Homo sapiens: one gene and its partner. The protein of the gene in region 2 interacts with the protein of the main gene of each other region in a biochemical or structural test. Each region holds a gene or a part of one and is shown on either strand. Other genes may lie near its edges.

Region 1 (7,046 bases), on a different chromosome or scaffold from region 2:
ACAGTGGAACCCACGGGTTCTCAAAGAGGTTAGGTACTTGGTGCTTCTTGCCTGTCCTGTCTTGAAGCCTGGAATAGCAAGTTCAAGAACCTGAAGGGTATGGGGACCTGGCCCCATGACCTTGGCCTCTGTGCAAATTTGCTGAAAGAACTTTCCAAAGGCTTTGCAAGGCAAGCACAGTCTGTTTCATGGATGTTTTAAAACCAGCTGAGATGGTTTTGCAGCTGAGAAACGTGCTAAAAAGGCATTGCATCCGTTTTGTTAACATTTCCATCCATTGAGATTCGCTTTTATTCCCTTTAGTGAGCAGAAAATGTTACCTTTTCCAGCCCCACAGTGGGAGCTTCTCACTGGGTATGTGGGGAAGGCAAGGGAAGTGTGGGGCAGGGGCTTTTATAAGTGGAAGGGGTTGGTGGTGGGAGGAGAGGAGCAGGAAGGGGCTAGAGCATATCATGGTGGTCTTGGGGACTCTGGAGAGGCATTTGGGATGGAGGAGGAGAAGGGAGAGAGGAAGATGGGCCCAGTGAGATGCCCAGGGGGATTTGAGGAAGTGGAGCTTCCTGACGACTCAGGCTGTTGACGGGGTGGTGACGGAGCACAGGGAACCACTGAGGCTGCATTGAGGACTGCAGGGACGAGGGGAGGGCGCAGGACTAGGAGTTGGGAGGCCCTTGTGGTCCTGGGCAGGTTGCTGGGCTCTGAGCCTCAGTTTCTCAGGGTTTGACTCAGGAAGTGCAGAGTTCCAGCTTTAATGTTCTTGGTGCAGGGGAGAGTCCAGGCTTGGCGTGGTTGTTCCTGATTTCTCTTCCTGGGACTCATAGAACTTTGCACACCCCATGCTTAACCACACGTCTTACCTCATTGATCTTCACAGCTGCTCTGTGAAGCAGGAAAGTGATTTTTATCCTCTCCGCTGGAGGGTCGAAAGGTGGTGTGACCCCTTAAGGGCAAAGAGTCAGGAGTACCTCTTTCTCACTTGTATATGTTAACTGCTTTCAGGTGTGGCCACTGTGGGACCACTGCCCCCCTCCCACCCAACCCCCCCCCCCACCACCACAGCTCTCTGCCTTTCCGTTCTGTGTGGGGTGGCTCTTAAGAAGTGGAAAGTGATCATCTTGTTCCCTTAGTTTAGGATGGAGGGAGGTGGGGCGGGGATTGTGATGGGACTAGGTTAGGGGAAGAGGAGGATAGTGTCATCATTGTGTCTTTAAAACACCCAGGCTTTTGTGGTTGTGTTACCGTAATCTGGCCAGTGTTGACTTTAACCCGAGTTCAGGGGTTAGCCGTGATGCCATACAGGTGAGCCTCATTGTATGCAACAGAAAGCGTGGCTCCTAACAGAAAGCACGGCTCCTCAAAAAGCCGAACGAAAACAGTTGCTTTAGAGAGGAGTTCGAGGGGCTTGTTTGAATTTTATGCTTTCGGGCAGCCTTTTCTAAAATGTGTCCTAAAGAATACCAGTCTGTGAATATGTTTGGAAAATGCTGGGTACTCTGTGGCCGTACAGAAGACTTAGTCTGTATATTAGCATATATTAGTACCTTAAAGACAAGTAATGCAGTATTTTCCAAGCTAATTTGGCTAATGTCCAAGAACCTAGTGTTCTGAGCAGGGAAATTCTGATGTAGGGAAATTCTACACTATGGGCACTTTCTCTTTTTTTTTTTGAAACGGAGTCTTGGTCTATCGCCCAGGCTCCCAGCCTGAAGTGCAGTGGTGCGATCTTGGCTCACTGCAACCTCTGCCTTCTGGGTTCAAGCGATTCTCCTGCCTCAGCCTCCTGAGTAGCTGGGAATACAGGCGCACATCACCACGCCCGGCTAATTTTTGTATTTTTAGCAGAGATGGGGTTTCACCATGTTGGCCAGGCTGGTCTTGAACTCCAGACAGACCTCAGGTGATCCACCCACCTCGGCCTCCCAAAGTGCTGGGATTACAGGCATGAGCCACCATGCCTGGCCCACTATGGGCACTTTCTCTTTAAAGAAAATTTTGGAGGTTCCCTTTGTAACGAGAAGTCCTTGAGAATAGCTCAGAGGGGTCTGGCTCTGGGTCCATCTGCCAGGCTTGCGTTCTGATTCTGTCACCACCTCTGTGACCTTGGGCAAGTTTGTTCTCTTCTGCGGGCCTCCGATTCCTCGTCTGTAAGTTGGGAGTAACTTACTCCCAGTACTCATGGGGTTTTGTTAATTGTTCCTCACAAAAACTAGGGAAACTGAGACCCAGAGAGGCAGTGTGACTTGCACCGGTTCCCACGGCTGGTGGCTGTGGGTTCTTCTTGTCTCCCTGGGCCCAAGCCGTGCAGTCTTCTCTGGGCACCCTCCCTGTCTCTCTGGGGTCAAGGTCAGCTGCTATTTCTCTAGACACATCTTTCCAGCTTCACCCCTCCCTCATTTCAGGTCTCAGAACACTGGGATATTCACGTTTTGTAGTTCCAGCGCCATGTTTGCCTCTGGAGCAGTGGTGGAGGGTGGGGTGGGATACCGTCTTGGTCCTCAGGGTACTCTAAAGTTTAGACCAGGTGAAGGGTGTAGATGCGACAAGATGAGGCACATCCTCTCTGGCCAGGGACCCGTGTTGAGGATGATAATGACTATCCTAATAATTTGTTGTATTTGTCAAGTGCTAACTATGTGTTAGGCACATATTTCTGCCAACAAACTAGAACAGTTTATGTACTTTTATTATCCCCATTTTACAGATAAACTGAGGTTCAGAGTGGGACAAATAACTTGTGGTCAAAGCCACAGGCATAGGAGGAGACAGAGCCTAGCTGTGTCCTGGAGTGGCAGGACTCAGTCCCTGTGTTCCTAACTACCCCTCTTTCCTGCTCCCATGCCGGGAGGGGCTCAGCTTATACATGATCTGGGTGCTTAGGGGTAGGAAAGCTGCTTCTAAGATGGGGTGAAGGGCGAGTGGGGTTTAGTCCGGCGGGGTGGACGTAGCTGCACTTTCTTGGGTTTTCCCCACTCGCCACTCTCTGCTCCTCAAGGCCACCTCCAGAGCTCACTGACCTCTGCCTGAGTGGCTTGGGCCACCTCTCGCTTTAGGAGTGGATTTTTTTTTTTTTTTTTTTTTTTGAGACGGAGTTTTGCTCTTGTTGCCTGGGCTGGAGTGCAGTGGCGCGGTCTTGGCTCACTGCAACCTCCACCACCCGGGTTCAAGCGATTCTCCTGCCTCAGTCTCCCCCAAGAAGCTGGGATTACAGGTGCCTGCCACCATGCCTGGCTAATTTTTGTATTTTTAGTAGAAACAGAGTTTCACCATGTTGTCCAGGCTGGTCTGGAACTCCTGACCTCAGGTGATCCGCCTGTTTTGGCCTCCCAAAGTGCTGGGATTACAGGCGTGAGCCAGGGCATTTCACATCTCTTTAGCTCATGGGGCCTGCCCTTAGCCTTCTTTTGCCCCACCCCAGGGAGAGGCTTTGGGCCTGGCCTCTGTAGTCTGGGTGGGGTGCTGTTGCCACCCCCTCCCTCCAAATTCTCCCTGATTTTAAGCTGGCTGTCAGGGTGAGCTGGCTTTGGCCCCCAGCCAGGGCTGCTCCCAATTCTGCTGCCTTGCTGTACTTCTGCTGCCGCCACTGCCTCCTCCCCCAATGTCTCTCCCCAGACCACTTTAATTTCCATCTGTCAGCAGCTTGTGGAAGGACAGACTACCACTCATGCTCTCTCTCCCTGCCCCCTCTTCCTGCTTGGTATTGACTCACCTGCCCCACTCTCCTCCTGCTTTAATCCCAGTGGGAACCTGGGGCCTGGCTTCCAGGCACTGCCGTGCCAGGCTTTCCCACACCTCTGTGCGTAGTATGAGTGTGTGTGTGTGGGGTGGGGGTGTGGGGATGCGGGGATGCGTGTGTTTGTGTCAGGTGTGGCTCTGTGCCGTGCCTGTAGATGTGGTGGGTGCGAGGTCCATCTGGGGGAGTGACAAACAGCGCACAAGCTCTCTGCCTGAGTGTGTGTGATGGTGATGAATGTGAATGTGTCATTTTGGGGAGTGGCCGCTGGACAGGGCGGGCAGTATGAGTTAGTGAGAGAGTGTGTGGTGTGCTTGTGCCGTGTTTGTATTTTGTTTTTAGATGGGGTCTTGCTATGTTGCCCAGGCTGGTCTTGAACTCCTGGGCTCACGTGATCCCCCTGCCCTGGCCTCCCAAGTAGCTGGAATTACAGGCGTGAGCCCTGCACCCCATGTCCAGCTGTATTGTGTTTTGAGGAAGCAGCAGACAGAAGATGCATATGCTGCATGGAGGTCCAAGGTGACCCAGCCCCTCATTTGCTTGGCAAACATTTGCTTAGTCCGGCGCGTAGCCAGGCTCTGGGTCAGGTGCTGGGGGCATAAAGGCAGAAAGGGCCCCGTTTTTGCCCTTGAGGAGCTCACCGACAGGCTATGGGGACAAAGAACCACAGGAAAGAAGCAGGAACTGGCATGGATTGGAGCCCAGGGCTGGTAGGGCTGAGGCGGCCATGGTGGCTGGGAGGGGGCAGGGCAGCTTCGGAAGCAGAATTGAACCAAGGGGACAGTACCACCAGGGACGGTGTGGTGCGGGGAGCTTTCCAGAAGAGGGAGCAGCTCGTTCAAAGCCAGCAGCATGTGAGGGCCGGGTGTCTTCTGATGGTCCCTGGTTGCTCTGTGAGCCTGGGGAATGAAGAGGCATAACGTGGGGGCTGAAGACAACATGAGTCCGGAGAGGCAGGTGGGCCAGTACCTGGCTCACCCCAAGGAGTGTGACTGCCCGAGCACGTGGCCCTGGGAGGGAACACATTGCTAGCATGCAACAGCAGCAGGAATAATGGCTGCTGCTTCTGCGGTGCGTGCTGACCAGGACTGTGCTAAGTGCTTTAGATTTTTCTTTCATCCTTGCAGCGACTCCGTGCAGTTAGAGGAGCCTGAGCTGTTTCCAGGGGAGGGGGCTCACCCGAGGTCTCAGGGATTTGAACCTGCCAGACTGGCTCAGCTCTTCACCTGTGTGCTGTGTTGCTCAAGGCCCTGACCGTGTCCTTGGAGTCTGGAAAAAGCATGGGAAGGAGGGCAAGGGAGAGTTTGGGGGCTGGGGGAAGGAGCTTGTGAAGTAGGCTTCAGGGCAGGGAGATGGGGCCTTACGATGATCTCGTTCTCTCTCTGTCCCCTTTACAGCCCTGGCAGGTGCCCGGCCCGCCCCCCACCCTCCGGCTCCCAGGGCCTGCTGGAGGAGATGCTGGCAGCCAGCAGCTCCAAGGCGGTGGCTCGGAGGGAGTCAGCGGCCTCGGGCCTTGGGGGCCTGTTGGAGGAGGAAGGAGCCGGGGCAGGTGCTGCCCAAGAGGAGGTGCTGGAGCCTGGCAGGGACTCTCCACCCTCCTGGAGGCCGCAGCCTGATGGTGAGGCCAGCCAGACAGAAGACGTGGATGGCACCTGGGGCTCTTCAGCAGCCAGGTGGAGCGATCAGGGGCCAGCACAGACTTCTCGGCGACCCTCCCAAGGCCCTCCTGCCAGATCCCCCAGTCAGGACTTCTCCTTCATTGAGGTCAGTGGAGGGTGAGCCCATGACAGTGGGTGGGTGAGGGCGATGCAGCGAGAGCCCCATTCCTGGAGCTTCCCTGAGCAGTCCCAGTCCAGGAGGCAGAAAGCGGGTTGTAGGTGCGTCACGTGAACGTGAAGCTCCGGCTGCAGGAGGGGTCCAGCTCCTGGTCAGCTACTGTTGAGGGGCTCCCGTGGGATGAGGCAGCAATGGCAGTGGTGTCACCATTGCCCCAAGCAGGACACCGAGATCCTCGACAGTGCCATGTATCGGAGCCGTGCCAACTTGGGGCGCAAGCGTGGGCACCGGGCCCCGGTCATTCGGCCTGGGGGTACCTTGGGCCTGTCGGAGGCAGCAGACTCGGATGCACACCTGTTCCAGGACTCTACAGGTAGGGCTGATGTATTATTTGGTGATGTCTCTTGATCTCTAGGGCATTAGGCCAAGCTTTTGCAGGGGTTATGGGTTCGGGGAGTCTGGGTGTGCTGCCTTTTCTGAGCCCCTTTCCCGGGCCTTTGCAGAGCCACGGGCATCTCGGGTGCCATCTTCAGATGAAGAGGTAGTGGAGGAACCTCAGAGCCGCCGGACACGGATGTCGTTGGGCACCAAGGGGCTGAAAGTCAACCTCTTTCCTGGCCTGAGCCCCTCAGCCCTGAAGGTACCATCTGATCATTAAGCAAACATGTCCAGCCATCTGGCCAGGTGGCCACCTTGCATGCTGTCTTTCTTCTCTTCATCCATCAATTCATTCCCCTGTCCCCCTCTCCCATTCCTCCTCTCACTCTCCTCTCCATCGAGGGCTCCAGAAGATCCCTTTGTGCCCCGCCGGGCCCTATGCTGTGTGCCAAATGGGATGGAAAGAAGAACAAGATGTGTTCTTATTCTGGAACCTCAGGGGCAGTGGGAGACATGATGCCCATAATTAGCCTGGATGAGAGAAGAAGTTTAGGTGTCCCTGAGGAGAGGCACAGATAAGGGCTGGGCCTGTTCAGAGAGAGAGGAGTTATTTCCTAACAGCAGAGTGGAGGGGGATGGGAAGGGAGGGTGGATTGGAGAAGGCCTCTTGTATGTATTTGATCTTAGCCGGCGGCAGGCACAGGAGTTGGCTCCTGGAGCTGGGATGGTGGGGTGGCATTGCAGGCAGAGGGAACAGGGGTGGGAAGTCACCACTGGCTTTGTCCCACCCAGTTTGTCTGAATTCAATCCTGCCATATGTTTTTGAGGACAGAAAGGTGTGCAAGGCATAGCTCAGTTCTGCGGGAAGTGCATCTCTAAGTGACTTCCCATCCTTTGGGGTGAAAGGACTGCAGAGGGGTCTCTGCTTGATTCTGGGGACTGCACACTCTTGAGATAAGGTCTTACCCCCTGAGAGTCCTACTGCCTGTCCCTCTACTATCTATCTGCTTCTGGACTTGCTTCTCAGGCCAAGCTGCGCCCCCGGAATCGCTCAGCTGAGGAGGGAGAGCTGGCTGAGAGCAAGTCGAGCCAGAAGGAGTCCGCGGTCCAGCGTTCGAAATCCTGCAAGGTCCCAGGACTGGGAAAGCCCCTCACGTTACCT
Region 2 (7,115 bases):
CCTTTAACCACCTCTCTGCCCGGAACTAACTCTCTGCCTGGAACTAACACTTCAAATTAAACCGACTACCCATGAGCGTACAGACCATAGCCAGAAAAAATCCAAGTTATCTCAGTGCAGGCTACAGATGTCTTTGGAGCAGCAGCCAGAAGACCCTGGTATGTAAGAGCTATCTTATAAAGCTACTAAAACTTTAATGGGAGAGTTGCTAAGAAACTGATACAGAGGATATCTTTAAATTACTGTAATTTTGCTGTCTTGTAATAAGTTGTTTTACCTGTTTTTTTTTTGGTAAAGCTTTTTCTGATACAATGTTGTTAGTACGATTGCAGCTGTTGGCATCATTGCCCATCTGTGGTTTTGTAAAAAAATATTCACCTGGGTTTCTGGATGGAACTTCAACTAAGAGAACGCAACACTTTTATAGAGAAATCTGGGCCCTTGGCACCATAGACATTTCTGACATAAAAATAACTTATTATGTTTCGGTAAGACCAAAAATGAGGAAATGACATGCCTCAGCCAAACCACAGCTCTGGCTTGTGCTCGTGGATTTGCGGAGGAGGCATTGCAGAGGGGATCGAAGAATAACTAGACTTAGTAGAAATACTACCAGAATACCAAATACGGTGGGAGATCAATGGGAAGTATATGGATGGAATGACACACCAATTCCAGTTGAAATATGGAACTTGTGCAAGTTCATGATTGTGTAATTTTCAGAGTGTCCATGCGAACCCCATAGGGTAAGAAAGCAAACATCAGAACACAGCCCAAAAGATCGGTGTCCTTTGAGTTGGTGGCTTTTCTTTTGTGTCAACAGTATAGCCTAAGAGAGTGCTATGTGCTCCCATTTTTGTAGTACTTGGGTATACTTTGTGTGTGTGTGTGTGTGTGTGTGTGTGTGTAGACAGGGTCTCACTTTGTTGCCCAGGCTGATCTTTGATCTTGATTTTTTGGGATCAAGCATTCTCCTGCCTCAGCTTCCCAAAATGCTGGGATTATAAGTGTGAGCCACTGTACTCGGCCAGGATATTGTTTTTGTGAAAACGCTTATGAAAATAAGATACTACACACCTGTGATCAACAATAGTTTAGAGACAGAGTTTATAAAGAATCCTGAATTATCAGATAAGGAAAGAATTAAACCTAATGTTTCTTTGCTTTAGATTCCCATTCTGTGTAAAACGATGGATATTTATTCCCAGCCCCTATCTTTGTCACAAAGGAAGTTGCGAGGGGAAAGCTATCAATAGTGGCTGTGAGTTCATGTTAACACTTTATGCATGCCATGTAAGAGAACGGATCTAACATTCAAAGAGTGCTTAAAAAACACCTAGGCTTTTAATCCTCATGACAGTGCTAAACTAAGGTCAACATTTTAGGCTGAGAGAGCTGAAGCATACCTATCAAGATTAGCCAACTAGTAATCATCAGAGATGTGACTTTCAAGCCCAGGTTTGTTTGACCCCAAGCTTTGCTCTTTCCACTATGATATAGTGCATTCCTCCTGGAATTGTGTTTAGCCACAGAAGATTAGGTAATAGCATGTGTCCTTTCATGTTTGGAGCTCAACATTAGTCGGTATAAACCCAAACTTCATAAATACTTAATGTTAAGTACTTTTCCTACTTTCTGCTCGAGGGGAAGAAAGCAATTTCCAGTTGATTGAATGCATTTCCAGACATGGTTTTCCAGTCCAGTTTCAGGCAATTTAGTTTTTTGTTTTTTGTTTGTTTGTTTGTTTTGCTGAGACAATGTTGCTCTGCCACCCAGGCTGGAGTGCAGTGGCACGATTTCGGCTCACTGCAACCTCTGCCTCCTGGGTTCAAGCCATCCTCCTGCCTCAGCCTCCGCAGTAGCTGGGATTACAGGCGCGCACCACCACGCCCAACTAATTTTTGTATTTTTAGTAGAGATGGGGTTTCCTCATGTTGGCCAGGCTGGTCTGGAACTCCTGACCTCGTGATCTGCCCACCTTGGCCTCCCAAAGTGCTGGGATTACAGGTGTGAGCTACTGGGCCTGGCCGGCAATTTAGTTTTTAAAAATCTCTGTCCAGCAGAGACTTCCTTATTTTATTGTTATTATTATTTTTTGTACTGATAGACACAACAGATGCATTTTGAATAAGTCTGAACATCACTACTTTCTATGAGTAACTGACCACTGGGAGACCAGATGAGATATTTCTTATGCCTCCCATTCCAGGAGGCCATTATTTAGGGGACACATGGTGTGTTATGGATATCTAACATATCATGTTGGATCACTCCCACTTCTCAATGGTTCTCTGCTGTACATCAAGAAGTTAAGATTAAAAAACAGAAGCATGAAGAAGAATGTTGTGGACTGATTTTAGTTGCACTGATGTGAGTTTTCCTATCCAGCTACACTTTTTGTCCGGTGTCTACTGCGAACAATGGCACATTTCATCACACAGCTGGATAATGTTAAGAATTATAATCTGTAACCCCAGATTAGATGAAAATAAATGCCACTCGTAATACTAATTATGTTCCTGACCTTATTGTATTTACTTACTAACCCCAAATAAACTCATCTATTTACTTAAATGGGAATATTAACATCACATAAATCATATTTAACAATGAACACATGAAACAATTTATCACCTAGTTTAATATTCTGCTTGACTCATCTAAATCTTGTTTCTCTTACAGAATTTCCATCTGTGTCCACTCTATTGGAATAATGCTGTTTCTGTATACTTCTACAATGCCTGCTTTACTATTGAACAGTAGGTATGAAATGGAGTCCTCAATGGGATTATCTCATTCATGGATACATCTTTTGATAGTAGAAAAACAAAAGTATACATAGGTTGGGGGAAAGACAGAAAAAGCAGTTGCTGAAAAATAGCACCTGATGGTGAGTAATGGACAGCAATCAGGTTTTTGTTATGTTTTCTTGTTGTTTTTGTGACAGGGTCTCCGCCCTCTGTCACCCAGGCTGGAGTGCAGTGGTGTGACCTCGGCTCACAGCAACCTCTGCCTCCCGGGCTCAAGTGATCCTCCCAACAGACTCCTGAGTAGCTGGGACTACACGCATGTGCCACTTTGCCCAGCTAATCTGTGTATTTTTTGTAGAGATGGAGCTTCGCCGTGATGGCCAGGCTGATCTTGAACTCCCGGGCTCAAGTGGCCCGCCGGCCTCGGCCTCCCAAAGTGCTAGGATTACAGGCATGAGCCACCGTGACCAGCCTAGCAATCAGGTTTTTATCTGTTTCGGGTGTGGGAGAGGCTAAGCTAAGCCAGAATTCAAAAGAAAGGAATATATTCATAATTAGTTACACTTAGGGTGAAAAATAAAATTTCAGAGAGAGCAGAATAGGAAAAAAAAATCATAATTTTAATAATTCACACTTATTGCACTATTGTTATTTCAATTTTACAGAGAAAAACAGGCATAGAGTGATGAAATAGCAAGTACATATATAAACAACAAATGGCAGAGCTGGAACGCCAATCCTAGCAATCTGAACCAGCATTTAAAAACGAGGAATTAAAGCACATAGGGTGAGAAAAATTATAGGGAAGGGACAAGAGCTCAAGGGGACACCTGGAAAAGAAATACTATAATTTAAAAAATTACCAACGGGCTAATTATACTTGTGTTTTACTGGCAGAGCGCTTTGTCTGTTAGCTCTTTTAATCCCGCTAATAATTCTGTGAGGTTGGTACTATAAGTTCCATTTTTCAGACAAGGACGCTTAATAGATGATAACGGACACATTCCCTGCTTGCTCTGATCTGCATCTCAACAGCTGGCTCTGGAGCAAGCAAAGGGAGACTAAGGGAAACAGAGCGGAGCAGGGCAAAGAAAGCCGACTGAAAGTGAGAAATGCAGGAAATGTTTCCCATCTAGGCAGAAGCTGGTTCCAGCATTCAAATCTCTCCAGCCGGCCCGCCACCACGTCACAAAGCCCGCCTCTCAGTGACAAAGCCCCGCCCCGTTCCCTTGGCTGTTCTCTGAGCTCCCAATACTTCCCTCCTTCTCTTTGGCCCCTGCTACCCCGCCTAGCATCATTTCCTGTGCGCTGGATGCTGATTGGTCCGACAGTCGGAAGTGAGGGCGGGCGGTGGGGGCCGTTGCCGCAGTGACAGTGCTAGGGGAGTCCGAAGATGGCGGCGTCGCGTCGCTCTCAGCATCATCACCACCATCATCAACAACAGCTCCAGCCCGCCCCAGGGGCTTCAGCGCCGCCGCCGCCACCTCCTCCCCCACTCAGCCCTGGCCTGGCCCCGGGGACCACCCCAGCCTCTCCCACGGCCAGCGGCCTGGCCCCCTTCGCCTCCCCGCGGCACGGCCTAGCGCTGCCGGAGGGGGATGGCAGTCGGGATCCGCCCGACAGGCCCCGATCCCCGGACCCGGTTGACGGTACCAGCTGTTGCAGTACCACCAGCACAATCTGTACCGTCGCCGCCGCTCCCGTGGTCCCAGCGGTTTCTACTTCATCTGCCGCTGGGGTCGCTCCCAACCCAGCCGGCAGTGGCAGTAACAATTCACCGTCGTCCTCTTCTTCCCCGACTTCTTCCTCATCTTCCTCTCCATCCTCCCCTGGATCGAGCTTGGCGGAGAGCCCCGAGGCGGCCGGAGTTAGCAGCACAGCACCACTGGGGCCTGGGGCAGCAGGACCTGGGACAGGGGTCCCAGCAGTGAGCGGGGCCCTACGGGAACTGCTGGAGGCCTGTCGCAATGGGGACGTGTCCCGGGTAAAGAGGCTGGTGGACGCGGCAAACGTAAATGCAAAGGACATGGCCGGCCGGAAGTCTTCTCCCCTGCACTTCGCTGCAGGTCAGAGACTTTTGAATTGTTTATTAAGGGTTATGGGTTTGGGTGCAGGGTCCGGTTAGGACAAGAAAACAGGTTATTGTGATGGGACAAAGTGGGGGCGTGGTTATGGTTCTTCATCACCTCACCAGAAGACTGGAGGTTCCTTTCTTTTGGTGGTGCCTGGGTGATGGGGGCGTGGTTGGGGGGGATAAGTGAATCCAAGGAATTCTTCAGTGGTTGCACAGTACTCATTACAAAACTCACTGTAGTTGGTAGTCTCTGCATATGGATATATTTACACTTTAGTTTTTGGTGTGCAGGAATACAGTTAGATTTGGACAGCTTTAGAGTAGTTTTGTCGTTTGTGTGCTAGTTTATTTTGTTTTTACAAGGGTATGTCCTTTGAGGACAGTCCAGACCAAAAGAGGTTTAATACAACCCAACACATGTTTGAGGATCTATTGTAGCCTTAATAACCCAATGAAAGACATAAATGAAGTGTTTGAAAGTTTCCCTTCTTCTAAAGAAGTTTGCAGTCTAGACGGGGAGACCAAAATATGCCAATGTGAAACAACTGGAGAAGAATATTTGGATGCATTATATGATGATGGAAGAAATATAGGCTTTGATGTTGTGGCCACTATTATTTGTTGTCTAGCAGACCATTTACCTCGTGTCAGTTGCCTCAGTTTTCTCATGGGCAAAAATCATAAAATGATGTTGTGCGAGCATTTGGTGAGAAGTATCTGGCACAAAGTTCTCCCTCAAAAAGTGTGAATTTCTTAAGCTCTGGACCCCACACTTGTCTTTTTTTTTTTTTTTGCAAGTAGTTGATGATTTTCTCTCAAAGACACCTAATAATATGTTTATAAAATAAAGAGAACTGTAAAATAAAAACAAAGGACCATAATCTCACTGCCTGGATACCTATTGTTGATATTTTAAAAATGTAGGTAATAATGTTTTATACATTAGAAACATTATATTGGAAATACATATATTGTACGTTATACAATTCAAATAGGACAGAAAAATACAAAATGAAAGGCATCACACAGAAACATCAGAGATAACACACCAGAGATAACTTCTGTTAAGTTTCTCCTATATTTCTAATATATATATATATCACTTCTTCAGTTTGTTCTGTTAACAGTAAAACATGTGTTGACCCACTGTAGTATTTATTTTTACCACACTTGGGAGATATGATTAACCATTTTACAGATGACAAAAGTGAAGCATATATCGATCGCTTAAATAAGTCCAAATTCAGTCAGGAAATAGTGGAAATTGAGTTTGAATTCAGGCAGTTTGATTTTAGAGCTTGTGAAATCAAACTTAAACTGTCAGAACCCTGGATTAAGGTCACTTTTCATTTTTGTGAGTAATTGAAGTGTAGAGTTCCCAATTTTTGGGAGAAGTAGTAATGCGGAGGGGCTTATATGCAAGAGAGTAGCTTTCACATGTTTTTTATTGTAGCCCATACTTAGAAATACATTTTACATTGTCACATACGCAACTGAATCAAAAGTTTCTGGAAACAATACTTTCCCTTAATACATGTGTTGTCCTCTGATATTTTATATTTTATTCTGTTTCATTTTTAGCAAATGCTGCTTGTGATCCATTAATGGGTCGTGACCAGTGGTATGAGAAACACTTAAAGGAAATCATTGTTAGGTCACTGGATTCATTATTGATATACAGACACTACTTATTAGGAATGCAGTGAATTGAATCAGAAACAGACTTTTGCCTATTTGTTTGCTCAAGGGTCTTGCTTGTTTTAGATGAAATAGCATTTCTTTTTCCTTAGGCTAAATGAAAGGCCTAAGTCTGATTTTATTAATCAACAGAGGTGTCTACTTTTGCATACTTTATTCCAAGTTTGCCTATTTTAACAAATTGCGTCACAAATCATGTCATTTCTCACCATCCCACTTTATGCGTAATCACCAATAAATGATAGTTATATTTATGTGTATTAATGTATTTAGGATAAGTCACACAAAATAGTGCTTGTTTCTCAAATCACGTGTCTTCTATTTGCCACAATAGTTACTTGTTATTCTGTTTCAGAGTTTTATGTATATCCAGATAAGCTAGAAGATAAACAATCAAACAGTACCGTAATTATGTTGTAGTTATGACAAGCTAACCTTGAATTGGCTTTTTAAGAAAGTTTTTAGCTCAGTTGTGGAAAACACAGTAATAAAATTCTCGATATGAAAACATAATGTCCTGTAGTCAGTTTGCCACGCTTCCGTGATTGAATTCGTAACATTAAAGTTTTATTAAACTTTAGTCTTCTTTATCA

Evidence for each region. Proteins that work in one complex are often made in the same cells at the same time.
Region 1: the proteins of TNKS (region 2) and TNKS1BP1 form a complex in vitro, tested with the Homo sapiens proteins (2 studies listed by BioGRID).

Annotation. Positions count from the first base shown.
Region 1 is NC_000011.10:57,300,907-57,307,952, reverse strand, and holds part of TNKS1BP1 (182 kDa tankyrase-1-binding protein), read left to right. Parts: intron 1-4,857; coding exon of another isoform or gene 4,858-4,984; exon of another isoform or gene 4,985-5,088; intron 5,089-5,127; coding exon 5,128-5,494; intron 5,495-5,728; coding exon 5,729-5,879; intron 5,880-6,009; coding exon 6,010-6,146; intron 6,147-6,911; coding exon 6,912-7,046.
Region 2 is NC_000008.11:9,551,797-9,558,911, forward strand, and holds the start of TNKS (poly [ADP-ribose] polymerase tankyrase-1), read left to right. Parts: upstream 1-4,115; 5' UTR 4,116-4,143; coding exon 4,144-4,816; intron 4,817-7,115.